2 linked regions of the Homo sapiens genome follow. The protein of the gene in region 1 binds, or shares a complex with, the protein of each later gene. Each region holds a gene or a part of one and is shown on either strand. Other genes may lie near its edges. A codon is read from its position in the direction of its gene.

Region 1 (6,949 bases):
GAGGCTGAGGCAGGCAGATCACGAGGTCAGGAGTTCGAGACCAGGTGAAATTGATCTCTACTAAAAAAATAAAAATTAGCTGAGCATGGTGGCGGGTGCCTGTAATCCCAGCTACCTGGGAAGCTGAGGCAGGGGAATCGCTTGAACCCAGGAGGTGGAGGTTGCAGTGAGCTGACATCGTGCCACTGCACTCCAGCCTGGGCGACAGAGTGAGATTCGGTCTCTTTAAAAAAAAAAAAGTTGTTACAACGGACGGGGGTGCTACTTGCATCTCGTGGGTAGAGGCCAGGGATACTGCTCAACGTCTTAGAATGCACAAAACAGACCCAATCCCGACAAAGATTCGTCTGGTCGAAATGTCAGTAGTGCCAACGATGGGAAACCCTCATCTAGATCCTACAAGTTTCCAAAACCGAGTTACCACAGAAACAAACATGATTTATTTGTCAGAGGGAAGAAGATCAAGTGTCCCTGGAACACTCGTGTGTTTGGAAATGACAACCTCAGCACGTTGTCCAAGGCCACAAAGAAAAAGCATTCGAGAGCCGTTTACTAACCTCTGAAACCAATAGCTCCTCCCGTGATGCAGCCACTGATGACACTGTTCTTCCAGTCTGATGTTCCCCGGTACTGTGGGCAGGGAAGTACACGTTAGAGCCAAAGAAACAAGCCAAGGCAGACCATTAAGGAGGAATACACAGGGTTGCTCGTTAGCTCATTCAGTCCCTACCCAAAGGAAACCTAATCTTTCTTGAAAATATAGTTCCTAAGTATACAGCGTGTATATATATATATATATATATATATATATATATATAGTATGCGTTCATAGATGCTTCCTGCAGGTGGCACCAGAGTGCTGAAACCAAGCCCAGCATTTGGAATGTAATCAAAATTTCTTCAAGGGGCTCTCCAATAAGTCTCGTTTAAAATCATTAGCTAACTTCTAGCCTACAAAAAGTAAAAAATAATGCAAGCCCATACTGTAAACACACACAAAGTCTGCCACAGGGACTATTTTATGGAAGTTCAACCTAGAATGTATCTGATGCTTCTGATTTGCTTTCTAGTAACAACTTTCAAATGACTTTTAAAGAGCAATTTCTCTTTAAAAGTAATGAAATGGTGGCCCCAGCAAGGATTTCTTAGAAGGCAGAGACACTTACAGATTCTATCAAACACTCAGTACAAGAAAACATGGCTCCCACAATGGCGAAATTTTTGGCATAGGACATTCCTCTCTGCCCCATGTCTTTCAGCACTTCTTTTGCAGTCGGTGTACGGTAAGGATCCTTAGGGTCAAAGCCCACGTTGGTATCGATGCCAGCGGTAAACACCCCAAATGCACCTCCTAAGACAAATCCTAGAAGCAAACACAGAGATGAAGGTGTCTTTGGCATGTTTTCTGCATTACTCTATTGGGATCATCCTGGAAGGGACCATGCTTTTGGATGACCACCGGTGCAGAGGACACCCCCCTCTTGCCACTCAAACTCTCCACTTGCCTGGAGACTTGCAATCCAGGGTCTATGTTACTGACATCATCTTCTCCGTCTCTAAGATTTCTTCCTCCTGTCATTCCCTAACATTTCTCAAGATTCCATCTTTAACCCTCTATTCTCTCTACATTCTCTCATATGTAAACCAGCCACCCTCAACTTCAGCTATCAACTTTGCAAATCACTCTCTTGGCCACTGTGACATTCACAGTAATGCTTTACTGAGCACATGCCAGTATGCCACAGCCTCATTCATTCTTCACAATAATCCAGTGAGACAGATGCTATTAGCCTCTCCTTTCTATAAACTGAGGCTCAGAGAGGTTAAGCAACTTCTCCCAAGGCCACACAGCTACCTAATGGCAAATCCCACACTGCTGCCACATCTGTCCTTCCTGAGCCGGCTGGACATGTCCAGATGGATGCCCTCTCATGACCTCATGGTCAATATGAGTTTAATAAAATCATGGGCACCTCCCCTTCAACTTAAGGGAAAAACAGAAGGACAAGTGCAGACTTCGTCTCTCCTTGCTCGGGGCTGTCTAGTCACAATGGTCTTTCAGTTTTTCAAACCTCAAACAACTGCTGCCCTAGAGTCGTCTGCATGTGCATTTCCATATGTCTGCATCCTTCCTCTGCAGTGTTCCTGCTCAACATTCTTCTCCACATAGTATAATACAGGCCCCATGAAGACCAGGCTCTTGTCTCTTTCACCTGGCACGTGATATTGCTTAGGAACAATTTGTTGAAAGAATTATTTAAGAGAATGAATTTAAGGGAATGAACGGATGAATGAAGTCACCCACGTAATAACTTTTTGTTGTTGTTTTTGAGACGGAGTCTCGCTCTGTCGCCCAGGCTGGAGAGCAGTGGCACATCTCGGCTCACTGCAAGCTCCGCCTCCTGGGTTCAAGCGATTCTCCTGCCTCAACCTCCCGAATAGCTGGGACTACAGGCGCCCACCACCACGTCCAGCTAATTTTTTGTATTTTTAGTAGAGACGGGGTTTCACCGTGTTAGCCAGGATGTCATGTAATAACTTTCAGGCCCCAACCACAGCACCGATTCTCTAACCCAATTTTCATCAGGAAAGCCGGCCTGAGGGGGCAGGAGAGGTGACGCCCGATTCACGAACGAGGCGAGGGTGTGGTCAAGGTCAAGGCCCGCAGTCCCTCGCCTCCCAGGCGCGTGGTCTTCTCGGCAGAGATCCCCACTGCCGTCCAGGCCCTCAGCCTCCCAAGGGTCCCATCGCCCGGCCTCACCTCCCACGCAGGCCAGCGCAGCCTTGAAAGCGCAGCTTTCCATCGCCTTCTCGATCATCTTCTGCTCCTCACTCTTGGCTGGACTTGGGATCCCGCCCAGGCTCCCAGGCTCCAGGAGCCGGGGCTGACGCTTGTCACCCACCAGGTACTGCAGGAGCAGGCTGTACTGCAGCGGAGCTTCGGCGGAACCCGCTGTCTCAGGGGCCGAGCCTCCGGCATTGGGGGCGGCCGCCGCCATGACAGTCGCTGCCCAAGCAACCCTCGCGTCCTTCTCCCCGCAGCAGATTCGACAAGCGTCACGTTGCGGGCCCTGAGACTAGCCACTGTGATGCAACGGCAGATTCGCCGCAGGAGGAAGCCGCGGCCGCAACGCTCCTGGTGCGCACACCAGCGAGACCGCTATCATGTTTCCAAAAAGAAAGCCTCTTGTGAAAATGGAATTGGGCTTGGACAGCTTTCCCCATGTCACAGACAAACGAGATTCAGATTCACCAGAAAGCGCCCTCACGGTCGGGGCTGCAGCGCGGTGAGTACCGGGATTTGTAGTTCTAATCCGACACCCAACTACATTTCCCAGGAAGCGTTGCGCGTGCTCTCGCGCCTCGGCCCCGCGCGGGGCTCTTACGAGCTCCTGAGGGGAGCGAGGAGTGGCCGCGCGCTCCGGGGCTGCCGTGCTCCGGATCGCCGGGAGGGGACGCGCGAGCATTGTCGCTGCCCTTTCCACCTCGTGCTGTCATCGGGCGGTGAGGCGTTAAATCCCGTGGTCCCGGAAGGTGCGGTGAGAGGTGGATGCTTTGTAGATAAGCGTGAACTTGTGCTGTAAATGCACGGACCGGGCGCGGGGGCTCACGCCTGTCATCCAGCACTGTGGGAGGCCGAGGCCGGTGGATCACGAGGTCAGGAGTTCGAGACCAGTCTGACAAACATGGTGAAACCCCATCTCTACTAAAAATTAAAAAAATAAAAAATAAAAAAATTAGCTGGGCATGGTGGTGCACGCCTGTATTCTCAGCTACTTAGGAGGCTGAAGCAGGAAACCCCGTCTCTACTAAAAATATAAAAATTAGCCAGGTGGCGGCAGGCGCCTGTAATCTCAGTTACTCGGGAGGCTGAGACAGGAGAATCTCTTAAACCCGGGAGGTGGAGGTTGCAGTGAGCCAAGATCGCACCATCGCACTCCAGCCTGGGCGACAAGAGCAAGACTCCGTCTCAAAAAAAAAAAAAAAAAAAAAAAAATCCTAACTGACAGCATTTGCTGACTTGTGTGGTGTTAATATCCCCATCATGGCTGATTTCAAACTACCAAGCGAGGTCATCAGTCAGAATTGGGAAGACGTACAGCAGCATGTGGTTACATGGTGTTTCTATCACACAGATACAATCTATGGAAATAACCTCAACAGCATAGATAGGAGTACAGTGTAGTAAAATTTTTAGGAGGGGATGAGTTTTGAGCACATATTACCTATTTTTAGTGTAATTTATTATAAATGTATAGAATGTAATTTTTAATAATAACTGTGCTTAACAACCAGCTCAAAAACTCCTGATAATTTGTTGCCTTACTTTTTAAAATTACTCTTTTGAGACAGAGTCTTGCTCTGTCACCCAGGTTGGAGTGCAGTGGTGCAATCTCCGCTCACTGCAACCTGCACCTCCCGGGTTTGAGCGATTCTCCTGCCTCAGCCTCCCGACTAGCTGGGATTACAGGCACATGCCACCATGCCCGGCTAATTTTTGTATTTTTAGTAGAGACAAGGTTTCACCATGTTGGCCAGGCTGGTCTCAAACTCCTGACCTCAGGTGACCCACCCACCTCGGCCTCCCAAAGTGCTTGGATTCCAGGCGTGAGTCACTGCGCCCGGCCAGTTAGGGCCTTTTTGTTATTGTTGTTAAACATTTACCATTATACCACTGCACTGCAAGCATATTTTGGGAACCAAGAACACTTCCTCCTCTTTGAGGAAACCAGAATTGGGGCCTGGAGGCAGAGAAATTGGGAATGGATTTCTGGTCATATCCAGGAAAATCCTAGGGGATGTTGGAGAGAGGTTTTCAGTCCCAAGAATGCTAACACTTTGGCATCATTTTGTACTCCTCGTATGAACAAAACGTGGCCTGGGAACACCTCTGGGCATTTAAGCACACTTTTTGCTAATGGCCTGAAGGCAGTGCCGTAGCAAGCATCTGCCTACTTGGGCCAGGGACTCTCAGAAGATGTTGATCGGAAAAGATTCCTCTGCTGGGCATGGTGGCTCACACCTGTAATCCCAGCACTTTGGGAGGCTGAGGCAGGAAAATTGCTTGAGTCTGGGAAGTTGAGACTGCAGTGAGTCATGATCGTGCCACTGCACTCCAGCATGGACGAGGGAACGAGACCCTGTCTCAAAAAAAAGAAAAAAAAAAGATTAAGTAAACAGTGGTCATTTTATTCAGAGGGCTGAAAAACAATTTCCATCAAGGGCTGCGAAAGGGCTGGGGTGTTCCATAGCCCAGGAGCCTCACAGGTATGTCTGAGTTGTAAGAGGAAGTGAAGTGTCCTTCTTTTAAGGGTCTTGGCTGGGCGCGGTGGCTCACACCTGTAATCTCAGCACTTTGGGAGGCTGAAGCAAGGTCAAGAGATCGAGACCATCCTGGCCAACATGATGAAACCCTGTCTCTGCTAAAAATACAAAAATTAGCTAGGCATAGTGGCTGCACCCCTGTAGTCCCAGCTACTCAGGAGGCTGAGGCAGCAGAATCGCTTGAACCCACGAGGCGGAGCTTGCAGTGAGCCGAGATGGTGCCACTGTACTCCGGCCTGGAGACAGACGGAGACTCCGTGTCAAAAAAAAGAAAAAAAAGGTGGGGGTTGGGTCTTTGGGGTCCCAGAGAAGAAATGGGTGGGACCTAAGGAGCCATACTGGAAACCATACTTTTGGGACATGTTGCCCGAGATGAGGATGGAATACCCCACCCGGCAGAAATGGAGACCAGACAGCTGCACAGTCTTATGTGAGGGTGGATTATGTGAGGTGGATTATGTGAGGGTGGATTATGTGAGGGGTGGATTATGTGAGGGTGGATTATGTGAGGTGGATTATGTGAGGTGGATTATGTGAATGTGGGTGGATTATGTGAGGGTGGATTATGTGAGGGTGGATTATGTGAGGGTGGATTATGTGAGGGTGGATTATGTGAGGTGGATTATGTGAGGGTGAATTATGTGAGGGTGGATTATGTGAGGTGGATTATGTGAGGGTGGATTATGTGAGGTGGATTATGTGAGGGTGGATTATGTGAGGTGGATTATGTGAGGTGGATTATGTGAGTGTGGATTATGTGAGGGTGGGTGGATTATGCGAGGTGGATTATGTGAGGTGGATTACGTGAGGGTGGATTATGTGAGGGTGGATTATGTGAGGGCGGATTATGTGAGGTGGATTATGTGAGGGTGGGTTATGTGAGGGGTGGATTATGTGAGGTGGATTATGTGAGGTGGATTATGTGAGGGGTGGATTATGTGAGGTGGATTATGTGAGGGTGGATTATGTGAGGTGGATTATGTGAGGGTGGATTATGTGAGGTGGATTATGTGAGGTGGATTATGTGAGGTGGATTATGTGAGTGTGGATTATGTGAGGGTGGATTATGTGAGGGTGGATTATGCGAGGTGGATTATGTGAGGGTGGGTGGATTATGCGAGGTGGATTATGCGAGGTGGATTATGTGAGGTGGATTATGTGAGTGTGGATTATGCGAGGGTGGATTATTTGAGGGTGGATTATGTGAGGCGGATTATGTGAGAGTGGATTATGTGAGGGTGGATTATGTGAGGGTGGATTATGTGAGGTGGATTATGTGAGGGTGGATTATGTGAGGGTGGATTATGTGAGGGTGGATTATGTGAGGTGGATTATGTGAGGGTGGATTATGTGAGGGTGGATTATGTGAGGTGGATTATGTGAGTGTGGGTGGATTATGTGAGGTGGATTATGTGAGGGGTGGATTATGTGAGGGTGGATTATGTGAGGTGGATTATGTGAGGTGGATTATGTGAGGGTGGATTATGTGAGGGTGGATTATGTGAGGTGGATTATGTGAGGGTGGAGTGGCTCTTAGCTTTTCTCTCTGAATCACTTTCCCCACAAGAGGACATTTATCGTCTGGCCTGGTCTGACAGATGGAATAAGGCTTGACGTCGCTGGC
Region 2 (7,579 bases), on another chromosome or scaffold:
CAGCAGTCAGGTCTGGCCTCCATGGTATTGTTCTGCTTGTGTGACCTCCAGCAAGCTTGCTCCAGCAAGCAACTTACTTCTTAAATCCTCAGCTTGCTCATCTGTAAAACAGGATTAGTCAGGGGGCTAACCCTATTTTACAGATGCGGAAGCTAAAGCACACAAAAGTGACAGGTGCAGGGCCACACAAAAAGCAGCAGACAGCAGGCAAACCTAAGCTGTCTTACTTTTTTTTGAGATGGAGTCTCACTCTGTTGCCCAGGCTGGAGGACAGTGGCACAATCTCAGCTCATGCAACCTCCGCCTCCTGGGTTCAAGCGATTCTCCTGCCTCAGCCTCCTGAGTAGCTGGGATTACAGGCACCCGCCACTACACCCAGCTAATTTTTGTATTTTTAGTAGAGACGGGGTTTTGCCATGTTGGCCAGGCTGGTCTTGAACTCCTGACCTCAAGTGATCCACCCACCTCAGCCTCCCAAAGTGCTGAGATTACAGGCATGAGCCACCTTGCCCGGCCTGTCTTACTCTTAAACACTCATTAATCTCCCTCTGCTGGTAGGGGCTGTGTCTGTTTTCTTTACTCTCAAATGCCAAGCACACTGCTTTGCACATAGTAGGTGTCAACAAACTTGTTTATATATATATATATATATATATATATATATATACACATACATACACACACAGTCACATTCCAGTGTGACAAATACTCCTTCACCAGGAGACAGCGCTACCACTCCGGGATCTTGAAGACTCTCTACAGAGAGCCTAGGCCTGGCAGTCTTCACAGATGACACCCAACAGGGAGCACGTTTATTAAAGTGGGAAGGGGTGGGGTACACCCCAGGGTGTATACTGACAGGGACCTCATGCAGGCCCAGAGCTCTGCTGCACCCTCTTCATCAGCTCTTCATCCTGCATAGACAACTCTGTCAACTTTTTGCCCATCCGCTCATGGATGTCCAGGTACTTAGAGACACATCGGTCCAGGCACACAGACTCGCCCTTGGAGAGCTCTGCTTCCTTGTAGTGAGGAGGCACACACTTCCGGTGGCAGGCACTGGTCATTCTGGAGGGAGGGAGGGGCAAGGTCATGTCAGCAGCATCCTGTGACATCCCAGGAACCTTGACCATTCCAGCCCTGCTATATTGATTTCACCTCCCCCAAGAAAGCAGTGTAAATCCTCAGTTTACACCTCAACCACTGGAAGGTCCTTGCAAGTAGGAAACTTGTCTAAGTCCATGTATATGACTAACTAAGTAGAAACCATTTGTTGAGGACTGGCTACATGCCAGGCATCCTGCTAAGTGCTTTACCTGCATTCTGTTATGCAATGCTTACAATAACCCTAAGAGACATGTATCCCCATTTTACAGATGAGGAAATTAAGGCAAACAGAGGCTCAGTAATTTTCTAAGGATCACACAGAGCTGGGTTATGAAGCCAGGTCATCTGACCTCACAGTCTACACTTAAAAATCCTTCTAATTTATAGCCTTCAGGATAAACCAACCAATCAAGAGAGCTTAAGCCAATAAAAATAGCAGACATTTCACTAAGTGTTGGGCTTGAGGCTAAGGGCTTTCATATATTTTTAGATTTAATATTTATGATGTCCTATGAGGTAGGTATCATTATGTCTTCTTCATAATGAGGAAACCAATTGTCAAACAGTGCAAGTAACATGTCCAATTATACTGCTGGTGATTGGTGGAGCCAGGATTTGTTCCCAAATTTGCCAAATGGTTATGAGCACTAGTTGCAGAATCAGACTGAGGTGCTAGTTCTGGCATTGTTACTGACCAGCTGCCGACCCTAAGGAAGTTACTTAACCTCTAGAATCATCAATTTCCTCATTTTAAGACGGGACTAATAAAATTAACCCACTGGATTATTTTGAAGATTAACAAGTGCCTGACACAGAATAAAGGGTTTTAAAATGTTAACTACTAAATGGGCTGGCTATGTGCTATTTGTCAAGAGGCAAATACTCAGCTTTTCTTGGAACCTAACCAGAGCCTGGATTGGAGTTTCTCTTCCTGCTTGGCTCCTGCATTGCCAGTTCCATCCCCATCTAAATGCCCAACTCATTCTAGTGACCCTTTACTGCATCTACATTAGGATCAACCTTGAAGGTGGGTGTGGGGAGGGTAAGCATGGGCCTCAGGCTCCCCTACATTCAGGAAGGAATTTGTCATAAGTCATTCACCTTCGATAAGGGTGACCAAGACTTATTTTCCAAGACAGGGTAGCACATAGTTCTCTTTACCTGTTGTACATATCGGCCATCATCTCCACCTCCAGCTCCGCAGCCAGCTGTTGGGCCCTGAGAGGATCCATCTCAGCCTAGCACCGTGGAAGGGATCTCCTTCTGGCCTCCTAATCCTGGGAGCAGACATCACCATCAGCACCCACCGCCGCCGTTCACTCTCCTACCCCTGGGGCTAGAGGATACAGAGGACTCACAGGGCGCCAGACCACCACGGGCCACTAACCTCAGTGAGCTTAACCACCCCATTTCACGGATGTGGAAACTGAGGCCTAGCCCAAGGTCGCACAGGACGTCTATGGCGAGCCTGGAAATCGAGCCCCGGATCTCTGATGCCCCAGTTCCTGGAGGTCACCTCTATTCAGGAGATCGAGGACCGGAGGAGAACTCTCTAACCCACGAACCTGAACCTCCAGGGCCCTGGGAATGGGATCATACGCTGAACAGAGGCGACCGGGACCCAGCCCAAAGGCTACACCTCTGAAATGGCGACGCCATCATCAGGGCCACATTGAATTCAGAGGTCATGTGTCACTTACCACTGCCTGGGACGGATCACAATGCCCACGGAGACCCCAACTTCTGACAAATACTATAACGTTACCCGCCTCCCGAGAGGCTCCAGCGGAAGCACGTGGGTTACTTCCGGGAGGAAAGTCCCGCCTCTTCTTTGATTCAAACTCGCTTCCGGAATTAAATACCAACGAGACGGCGCCGGGAACTCGGCGATCATAGAGAGGGAGCGGCTGGCGCCGGGCGAAGAGGAAGGCGACTTGCCAGTGCTAGAGAGGACACCAAAGTACCATAGAAGCTTGGGCGGGGTGCAGAGCGTCTGCAGCCCGATCAGAATTCAAGTCCTTTGGGATGTCACCGAGCGGCTTCAGTTTATTGGTTCTGTAGGAAGAGGCGTGGCGACAGACACCTGTGAACCTCACCCCCGTTCCAGACAGCCGACTCCTGTGCGCAAATCAGGCGTGGAGAAGGAAGAACGCCCCCAAACAGCGGTTCTGTTTTTGTTTCGCGTTAAAATCACCTGGAACGTTTTTAAACATCCCAGTGCCCAGGACTCACCTCATTTCAATTAAATCAGAATCTCTGGGAGTACAGTTTAAAATTCCTCAGGCAGCAATACAATTTAAAATTCCCCAGGTGATTCGTATGTACAGCCAAATTTGAGAAGCAGTGCTCCACGGGACGTTGTGCGATTACTGCTGTGTGTAGGTCACACTAAGCCCCGTCTGGGGTTGCAAAGATAAGCGAGATAGGCTTCCTGTTCGCAGAAAGACAAGACGTGTAAAATATGTTTTCTTCAACAGTTAGAGGTCCTCAGCCACAAAGAGATAATAAAAGCAATTTCGGCTGCCACCAGGGCTAATCTTGGGTGAGGGAAAGAAGGGTACTGGTGAACTTTCCAACTTTCAAGACTTAATGTGTTCTTCAAACTGCACCATTCACTCATTCCCCACTAAAAAGAAGGAAACAAGGAAACAATACTCAGTCCCTTGATTTGTCACACAATTTCCTGGTAAAATAAATTTACAAGATGTAAATTAATGACGCAAGGGCACATTGCCCATTGGAAAAGGTGGGCTAGACATTTTCTGTGTGGTCATCATAAGCTTCCCTAATTGTCCAAGACCATCCTAATTTTAAACAATTGACCTTTCTACTGCTTTGAAGACTCATCTTTGCCAAACTTGTGCCCTGATTTTTAAAGATTGGGGTATAACATTCATAAAGTGCATAAAATACACGAATGTTAAGCTTAATTAAATATATATGTATCTATATATGTACATTTGTATAACCGCCATCCAGATCAAGATATAAAATACTTCCTGCACCCCAAAAAGTTATCTTGTGTTCCTTCCCCATCAATACCCCCTCTCGAAGTTAACCACTATTCTGACCTCTATCACCATCAATTAGTTTTCCTTGTTCTTGAACTTCGTGTAAATGGAATTATACATTATTTTCTATTTTGTGCCTGACTTCTTTAGCTCAATGTACCTGTAAGATTTCCTCCATATTGTTGTGTGCATCTGTTATTCCTTCTGTTTTATTGCTGTCTAGTGTTTGATTGTATGAGTATGCCACAATTCATCTATCCATTCTCCCGTTGGTGGATGTTTGGATTGTTTCCAGTTTTTGCCTATTATGCAATAATGCTGCTATGATACTCTTGTACAGATGGACATATCTTGCCTTGGTTTTTGCCTTTGAAAATATAGTCAACATTGGCCGGGTGCAGTGGCTCACGCCTGTAATCCCAGCACTTTGGGAGGCTGAGGTGGGTGGATCACCTGAGGTCAGGAGTTCGAGACCAGCCTGGCCAACTTGGTGAAACCCCATCTCTACTAAAAATACAAAAAAGTAGCCCGGTGTGGTGACGGGTGCTTGTAATCCCAGCTACTCAAGAGGCTAAGCAGGAGGCTAAGGCAGGAGAAACACTTGAACCCGGGAGGCAGAGGTTGCAGTGAGCCAAGATCGCACCATTGCACTCCAGCCTGGGCAACAAGAGTGAAACTCCGACCCCCCACTCCCCGCAAAAAAGAAACATTATGGAAAGTTAAGAAACTGCGTGGGAAAAGGAGATGGTTTCTTACAAGAGGAATCTTGCAATATCTACTGGGCCTTATGAAAGGTTGCATACTGTATGATTTCATTTAAGTAACATTCTCAAAATCACAAAATTATAGAGATGGAGAAGAGATTTCTGATTGTCTAGTGTTAGGGTTGATGGGGAGATAGAAGTGTACCTGTAAAGGGTAGCACAAGAGAGATCTTTGTGTTGATGGATAATTCTGTATCCTGATTGTGGTGGTGGTTACAAGAATCTACACAGGTGATAAGATGTCATAGAACTGGCAGGGTGCGGTGGCTCACGCCTGTAATCCCAGCACTGTGGGAGGCCCAGGCGAGCGAATCACAAGGTAGGAGTTCGAGACCAGCCTTGTTGGTGAAACTCCGTCTCTACTAAAAATACAAAAAATTAGCTGGGGGTAGTGGCGGGCACCTGTAACCCCAGCTACTCAGGAGCCTGAGGCAGGAGAATCGTTTGAACCCGGGAGGTGGAGGTTGCAGTGAGCCGAGATCGTGCCACTGCACTCCAGCCCAGGCGACAGAGTGAGACTCCGTCTCAAAAAAAAAAAAAAAGCCAGGCGCGGTGGCTCACACCTGTAATCCCAACACTTTGGGAGGCCGAGGCGGGTGGATCACGAGGTCAGGAGATCGAGACCATCCTGGTTAACATGGTGAAACCCCGTCTCTACTAAAATAAAAAAAATCAGCCGGGTGTGGTGGCATGCGCCTATAGTCCCAGCTACTCAGGAGGGCGAGACAGGAGAATCGCTTGAACCCGGGAGGCGGGAGGCAGAAGTTGCAGTGAGCCGAGATTGTGCCACTGCACTCCAGCTTGGGCGACAGAGCAAGACTCGGTCTAAAAAAAAAAAAGAAAGAAAAAAAAAGTCATAGAACTACTACACACACACATTGTACCAATATAAATTATCTGGCTTTGATATTGAATATAGTTATGTTAGATTTAACCTTTAGTGGAAGTTGGTAAAGGGCGTACAGGACCTCTCTGTACTATTAATGCAACTTCCTGTGAAACTATAATTATTTCTAAATAAAAAGTTTTAAAAATCTCTACAAAAAAGAAAACAAATAAGATTATACAAGTATGAGTAAGAGCTGGCCATAAAGAAAGAAAGAAAAATATTTATATAAAAGATTGTGTAAGTAAAGTACCTAGTCCATGGTAGATGCTCAATAAAAATAAATCATTGTTTTCATTCTTTTTCATTTTTAAACTTTCACTGGGGCAAATTTATTTTTATTTTTACTTAGGATTTTTGAGGCAGGATCTTGCCTTGTCACCCAGGCTTGAGTGCAATGGTATGATCAGTGCTCACTGCAATCGTGAACTCCTTGGCTTAAGCAATCCTCTTACCTCAGCCTCCTAAGTAGCTGGAACTAGAGGCATGAGCCACCATGCCTGGCTAATTTTTTTTTTTAAGAGATAGGGTCTCATCATGTTTCCCAGGCTGGTTTCAAACTCCTGGGCTCAAACAATCCTCCTGTCTTGGCCTCTCAAAGTGCTGGGATTACAGGCATGAGCCACCCCATGCCCAGATGGAATATTTAAAACATACAGAAAAGCAGAGAGAACAGGACATTGAGCTTCCATATATTCATCACCAGGACTTAGGAATTGTTAACATTTGTCCATATTTTCTTCATCTATTTTTATCTCTAACAGATAAAGCCCTTTTATTTATTTATTTTTTCCTTGAGACAGGGTCTCTGTCGCTCAGCCTGGAGTGCAGAGACCCAATCATAGCTCACTGTTAGCTTAAACTCCTGGGCTCAAGCAATCCTCCCATCTCAGCCTCCTGAATAGCTAGGACTACAGGCGCAAGCCACCATGCCTGAGTGGTTTTTAAAATTTTTTGTAGAGATAGGGTCTTGCTATGTTGTCCAGGCTGGTTTCAAACTCCTGGCCTCAAGCGATCCTCCTGCCTCAGCCTCCCAAAGCACTGGCATTACAGGCATGAGTCACTGCACTGGGCCCTGCTTAACAAAAAAAATTTTTTTAAACGGAGTCTCGCTCTGTCACCAGACTGGAGGATAGTGGCACGATCTCCGCTCACTACAGCCTCTGCCTCCCAGGTTCAAGGGATTCTCCTGACTCAGCCTCCCAAGTAGCTGGGACTACAGGCGCATGCCACCACACCCAGCTAATTTTTGTGTTTTTAGTAGAGATGGGGTTTCACCATGTTGGCCAGGATGGTCTCAGTCTCCTGACCTCATGATCCACCTGCCTTGGCCTCCCAAAGTGCTTTATACACCGCGCCCGGCCAACAAATTTTTAAGTGCACAAAATAGTATTGTTAACTATATGTACCATATTGTACACAGATTTCTAGAACTTATTCATCTTGCATAACTGAAATTGTATACCCATTGAACAGCAACTCTCCATCTCCCCAGCTGCTCAGCCTCTGGAAAACCATTGCTCTTATTGATGATGATGCTATTGTTATTATGATTATTTACTATGAGACTGTGTCTTTCCTCTATGTGGAGACCTACAGGTAGGAATCTCCAATGGTCCCAGTTGAATTGCTTCTTGTAGAAGACAGTTTAGATAGCCTCAGACTTTGAAGATATCCTTAGACTCCAGATATGTCATCCAAAGCTACTGATCTCTGTCAACACCATGCTGAAACTCTGGCTCCTCATTCTACCCTGCATTCTACCCCTTCCCAACCTTGCAAAGGTGAGTTGTATATTTGTCATTCATCGT

The links.
Region 2: the proteins of TIMM22 (region 1) and TIMM10 are in contact, whole or in part, in a cryo-EM structure (PDB 7CGP), measured with the Homo sapiens proteins. Residues at the interface, in NP_037469.2 of Homo sapiens: Tyr25 (codon at 2,927), Ser26 (codon at 2,924), Leu28 (codon at 2,918), Leu29 (codon at 2,915), Gln30 (codon at 2,912), Tyr31 (codon at 2,909), Leu32 (codon at 2,906), Val33 (codon at 2,903), Arg40 (codon at 2,882), Leu42 (codon at 2,876), Leu47 (codon at 2,861), Gly48 (codon at 2,858), Glu67 (codon at 2,801), Glu144 (codon at 1,172), Ser145 (codon at 1,169), Tyr146 (codon at 630), Gly148 (codon at 624), Ser150 (codon at 618); in NP_036588.1 of Homo sapiens: Pro3 (codon at 2,333), Ala6 (codon at 2,324), Gln7 (codon at 2,321), Leu9 (codon at 2,315), Ala10 (codon at 2,312), Ala11 (codon at 2,309), Leu13 (codon at 2,303), Glu14 (codon at 2,300), Val15 (codon at 2,297), Met17 (codon at 2,291), Met18 (codon at 2,288), Ala19 (codon at 2,285), Tyr22 (codon at 2,276), Ser44 (codon at 1,010), Lys45 (codon at 1,007), Gly46 (codon at 1,004), Glu47 (codon at 1,001), Arg53 (codon at 983), His62 (codon at 956), Glu63 (codon at 953), Gly66 (codon at 944), Leu69 (codon at 935), Thr70 (codon at 932), Ser73 (codon at 923), Met74 (codon at 920).

The regions. Positions count from the first base shown.
Region 1 is NC_000017.11:993,193-1,000,141, reverse strand, and holds the start of TIMM22 (mitochondrial import inner membrane translocase subunit Tim22), read right to left. Parts: upstream 3,014-6,949; 5' UTR 3,000-3,013; coding exon 2,762-2,999; intron 1,364-2,761; coding exon 1,167-1,363; intron 631-1,166; coding exon 558-630; intron 1-557. UniProt on the Homo sapiens protein: Essential core component of the TIM22 complex, a complex that mediates the import and insertion of multi-pass transmembrane proteins into the mitochondrial inner membrane. In the TIM22 complex, it constitutes the voltage-activated and signal-gated channel.
Region 2 is NC_000011.10:57,527,851-57,535,429, forward strand, and holds TIMM10 (mitochondrial import inner membrane translocase subunit Tim10), read right to left. Parts: upstream 2,905-7,579; 5' UTR 2,808-2,904; intron 2,444-2,807; exon of another isoform or gene 2,385-2,443; 5' UTR 2,340-2,384; coding exon 2,269-2,339; intron 1,069-2,268; coding exon 867-1,068; 3' UTR 614-866; downstream 1-613.